Regions from separate parts of the Homo sapiens genome. Here region 2 is linked to region 1. The links come from fine-mapping of genetic effects on gene expression. A gene starts in region 1. The other region holds a variant in brackets. All regions are shown on one strand. Distances are between the middles of the regions.

Region 1 (2,500 bases):
TCTACTAGACATTACACTTCACCATCTGTTCAAGCACGTGAAATAATAAAATGATCTGCATATTTTTAGAAATAATTTTGAATGATAGGATGTGTCTATGGTTGAAATGACATTATATTTGCACTTCAACACAGTTTACCGAAATAAATTTTTTTTTCAACTTTCTCACTTGCGATGATGGTGGTAGGAAGGGTATTAAAATCCCTAAACTGAAGGGAAAAAAAAAGTTTTTCTTCGAAATTTACTTCCAGGACGTCAGGGATCTACTGCACTTGAAATATGATTCATCTGGAAAACCACAGGCTTCCAGTGCCTCGGTAAAGTGGGTAGGTTACCAGGGTTATTTTGCCGCGTCCCCAACACCAGTTGTTCCTGGGGATCCTCTGTGGAGCAGATAGGTGCCCGTCATAAATGAGACGGTGAATTCAGGACTGGCGGGTGAGGTCTAAAGTGGGAAAGGAACCCAGCAACACCCGCGGTGAGCGGCGGCCGAGAGGCACCTGCCGGGTCCTGCAAGCTGGCGGGAGCTCCGAGAGCCGGAATGGGGCGCCTCCCTTCCACGCGCCCGCGGAGCACCGGCCTTGGACGGCGGCGGGGCGCACGGCCCGCGCTCGAAGCCCCCCCGGGGGCAGAGGGCCGGGCTGGCTGGGCCGGGTGGCCCAGGGAAGGGTTCCCGCGGCAAAAGATGCCGGGGCGGGACCCGGTTCCCTCCCTAGCCTTCAGCGGCCCCAGGGGCGGAGCCTCGCCGAGCTGAGGCCCGAGGGGCGGGGCTTAAGGCCGCGCGAGGAGGGCGCGGTTGCCGGAAATTGAAGAGCCGGGGTTCAGATTCTGACTGCGGCGGCTCGTCGGGGGAGACTGTGGGTGTAAACGGCCTCCAACCTGCCTCCCTACCTGTCGGCGAGAGAAGAGAGCGGTCCCTGGCTGCAGCACCCGGGAGCCGCAACGCTGGCACAGCACCGCCTTCCGGTTTCGGCCCTCGGCTGACACTAACTCGCTCGGCTGCTCCGCTGGTTCCATCGCCGCTGCCGCCACAGGCTCCTCAGCCACGGCTGCGCAGACGCTGTCTCTGCTGGCTCGTTATTCACTGCGCTGGCGCGGCTTGGCAGAGGCGGGGCGGCGAGCGGACGGTCACTATGTCTCTGCGCAGGCGCCCGCTTCCCCGCTCTGGACTCTACTGCGCAAGCGCCTTCATTCATTGCCTAACCTAAGTGGCTAGGTGTCGGCAGGCTTTGTGACAGGGACACTTCTTGGCACCAGTGACACATCTCCATACCCACCTGGCCACTGGGCTTCACTTAAAACCTAGACAAATCATTAGGTTGACCTTACTGTTTAGTTTTCTGGGATCTGAATTTAGTCTCCTGAATAAATGGGGACATTATTGGGGGCAATATGAAGGGAATCTGGGTCGGACTTCCCATCAAGTTTTAGCCACATTAGCTTCTTCTATAGGAAACTACTTAGAGGGGCATGTATCTTTTCGGTATTGGAAAAAGATGCGTGGAAACTTTAATTGCTGGTCTCTTCTACTCATTGTGACCATTTACTATGCGGCAAAATGTGTCAAAGCGCCTTTAGAAACTTACTAAATCATCAGTTTCCTTACGGGGTCGGCACGCTTGTGCACAAAATGAGAAAGGTAAAGATCAGAAAGGTTGCAGCACAACTCTAAAGCCACTGCTCTTAATTAACTAGGATTGTCAGGAAAGCAAGATTATTTCAGACAGAACAGTATTATATATGAACAAGGGTGAGAACAAATTTAGGAATGGTTAGTAGACCACTGTGGCTGACCCACATTACACGTGGGGAGAAGTGGTAGTAGAGGTAGGTAAGGCAGAGTGGGCCCAGAGCTCCATGGCTTTAATGTCATGCTAAGGAATTTAACATTAATAACATGAACAATGGGAATCTGTGGAATTTTAGGCCAGAAATAACTGTTCGATATTTACTGTCTGCTGTATGTTAAGCACTGTAATGATCCTATCTGTGCTTCAGAAAGATAACCTATGAATAAATAGAGGGGCTAGATTGAAGAGAGGAAAAAGAGTAGAGGTAAGGTATCAGGTAGCTATTACCTCATCAGTCTAGCTCAGAAAGGCCCTGAAGCTAGCAGAGGGAACAAAGATATGGGAATGGACTTGAAACAATTAAAATTGTACAGAACTTAGAAACTAGCTGGATGTCTGTATTGTGATGGGGGTGACACAAAGCAACTGCTGGTTTTCCCAGGTTAGATAACTAAGTAGCTGGTTGCCAGTTATGGGAGCTTAAAAAAATAAGATGAACCACCAAATTAGGGGTATCTCTGTGTATGTATGTGAGCACATGAAAGTGTGTACGATTGTGAAGAGTGAAAAAGGAGCTGTTTTACGTGTTGATTTTTCTGTAGAACATACCATTGTGGCTTCAGTGTATGAACTATTTGTGAAGTTGGTCTGAAACTCATTAGTCAGCACTGAAGACAGCATAGGAGCCATCAGTCCTTCACCCTCCCCTG
Region 2 (3,031 bases), 48 kb after region 1:
TGTAACCACCCCCATGATTAAATTACCTCCCGCTGGATCCATCCCAGGACACATTGGGACTATGCGAACTATAATGCAAGATGAGATTTGGGTGAGGACACAGCCAAACCATATCAGATGGCTTATAGAACACACACACAGACACACACACACACCCCAAATTTAAAAAAAATAGGAAAATATATATTTTTAAATTTTATTATTATTATACTTTAAGTTTTAGGGTACATGTGCACAATGTGCAGGTTTGTTACATATGTGTACATGTGCCATGTTGGTGTGCTGTACCCATTAACTCGTCATTTAGCATTAGGCATATCTCCTAATGCTATCCCTCCCCCCTCCCCCCATCCCACAACAGTCCCCGAAGTGTGATGTTCCCCTTCCTGTGTCCATGTGTTCTCATTGTTCAATTCCCACCTATGAGTGAGAACATGCGGTGTTTGATTTTTTGTCCTTGCGATAGTTTGCTGAGAATGATGGTTTCCAGTTTCATCCACGTCCCTACAAAGGACATGAACTCATCATTTTTTATGGCTGCATAGTATTCCATGGTGTATATGTGCCACATTTTCTTAATCCAGTCTATCATTGTTGGACATTTGGGTTGGTTCCAAGTCTTTGCTATTGTGAATAGTGCCGCAATGAACATACGTGTGCATGTGTCTTTATAGCAGCATGATTTATAATCCTTTGGGTATATACCTAGTAATGGGATGGCTGGGTCAAATGGTATTTCTAGTTCTAGATCCCTGAGGAATCGTCACACTGACTTCCACAATGGTTGAACTAGTTTACAGTCCCACCAACAGTGTAAAAGTGTTCCAATTTCTCCACATCCTCTCCAGCACCTGTTGTTTCCTGACTTTTTAATGATCGCCATTCTAACTGGTGTGAGATGGTATCTCATTGTGGTTTTGATTTGCATTTCTCTGATGGCCAGTGATGGTGAGCATTTTTTCATGTGTTTTTTGGCTGCATAAATGTCTTCTTTTGAGAAGTGTCTGTTCATATCCTTCGCCCACTTTTTGATGGGGTTGTTTGTTTTTTTCTTGTAAATTCATTTGAGTTCGTTGTAGATTCTGGATATTAGCCCTTTGTGAAAATATTTTTTTAAAAGAAAATGGATGGCTTATAGAGATAAGTTAGGCTCTCCCCTATTTTTTGATTTACTGATAGGAAAAGGGGTAAAATCAGATTCTTAGCTTTTATGCTTTGCCTTTCTTTAATCCAAGCTCATCAGTGTTTTTGTCATTTGTTCTGTAATGCCTAGCACATAACAGGTCCTCAAGTATTTAGAAAGTAAGTGAATGAACCAGAAGTATGCAATTAGAGAAAGAAGGTAATAGTTACTTGCTGCTAGTTAGCAGTTCTGACAAAAGCAAGGGAAGATATTGAAAACATGAGCAAAAGGAATTTTTAAGTGATCTG[A/T]GTCTTTAGAACACGAGCTTTAAATGAGAATGACCTGGATTCAGATACTGGCTCCAAACCTGTCCATCACCTTAGGAAAAATTATTAGTTTCCTGGAGGGATCTGAATTTGCAGCCACTAGTATTGAACTGGAAGGAAACCTAGAGATCACACCTGATGTAACTCCATCCATTTTCTAGATGAGGCAATAAGCAGATTCATAGCAGCTGAAATCCAGTGTGGTCCTCAAATCTGTTAGGTGCTAGGCACTATGGAATAAGTAAATGACAAACACTGATGAACTGTGATTAAAGAAAGGCCGAGGCGGGCAGATCACTTGAGGTCAGGACTTCAAGACGAGCCCTGGCCAACATGGTGAAACCCCATCTCTACTAAAAATACAAAAATTAGCTGGGCATGGTGGCATGTGCCTGTAATCCCAGCTACTTGGGAGGCTGAGGCAGGAGAATCGCTTGAACCCCAGAGGCGGAGGTTGCAGTGAGCCGAGATTGCTCCATGGCACTCCAGCCTGGGCAACAGAGTGAGATTCTGTCTCAATTAAAAAAGAAAAAAAAAAAAAAAAAAAAAAAAGGAGGCCAAGAATGAAAACTGAGAATCTGATTCTATCCCTTTCCTATTAGTGAATGAAGAACTAGGGGAAAGACTAACTTATTTTCTAACTACATTTACTATGTATTCCACAGAGTCAACGATATAAAATGACATACCAAAAGTACCAAATAGGTGCCCAATAATGTTATCTCTTAGATCATCTTTCCCTGATCTTGTCTAGTACGGAGAAATGAAGAAACACACATTAGGTTGTTTTTTATTTTATTTTATTTTTTTAAGAGATAGGCTCTTGCTCTGTCACCCAGACTGGAGTGCAGTGGTGTGATCATAGCTCACTGCAGCCTCCAACTCCTGGACTCAAGCAATCCTCCCCCACACACTAGGCCTTCTCAACAGCTGTGGATCTCATTTCCTTATCTAGAAAATGGAGTTGGATCAGATATGATCCCTAGGTTTCCTTCCATTTCTTATACTAGCGGCTGCAAACCGAGATGCCTGCAGAGGCCAGCAGATGACTGCACTGAGACCATCACCCTAGGTAGGGACCATGATGAACTGGAGTGCACCAGCCTTCTATAAAGGACATACATAGCTGCTTTTGAGTAGCAGTTGATTGCTCTCACTGTGCAAGGCCAAACATGTCTACGGATGTTTTTGATGTACAGGTCATCAGTTTGTGACTTCTGCCAACAGTTCCTTAAGCATTTTTTAAGACTTAAAATGGTTTTGGATTAAACATATAAAACACTCATTGCATAAAGGCAGTGAGTATCACATGATCTTAGGCAAAAGGATCACGTAGGTGCTCACCACCTAACTTAAAATAACAAACTTTAAAGATTCTTAGTCCTTCAGAGGTAAACATTATTCTAAATTAACATTCCCTCTTTAAAGTTTTTACCATGTTTGTATCCTTAAACCTATCATTAATTTAGCAATTTTCTTAATTTTACATACATGCAATTATGCAAATGTATTCTGTTGCTTCCCTCCCTTCCTGCCGATCTTATTTCTGAGGCTCAACCATGTTGTTGCTTGTCACTGTAAT

What was found. PIP is the estimated chance that this variant, and not a neighbour inherited with it, causes the effect. A credible set is the group of variants that fine-mapping cannot tell apart.
Region 2: its variant is the best candidate, but not a certain one, in a credible set for the expression of RABIF in sun-exposed skin (GTEx, PIP 0.55).

The regions. Positions count from the first base shown.
Region 1 is chr1:202,888,082-202,890,581 of GRCh38, forward strand. It overlaps RABIF (RAB interacting factor), which reads right to left and starts at 1,068. Exons shown (of 2, transcript NM_002871.5): 1 at 892-1,068. The coding sequence starts at 1,017. RefSeq lists a silencer at 474-763 and an enhancer at 834-1,103.
Region 2 is chr1:202,936,092-202,939,122 of GRCh38, forward strand. No RefSeq gene overlaps it. Among named protein-coding and RNA genes, the nearest start is that of KLHL12, 10 kb to the left of the region's middle. The variant A/T (reference allele first, on the strand shown) is at 1,432.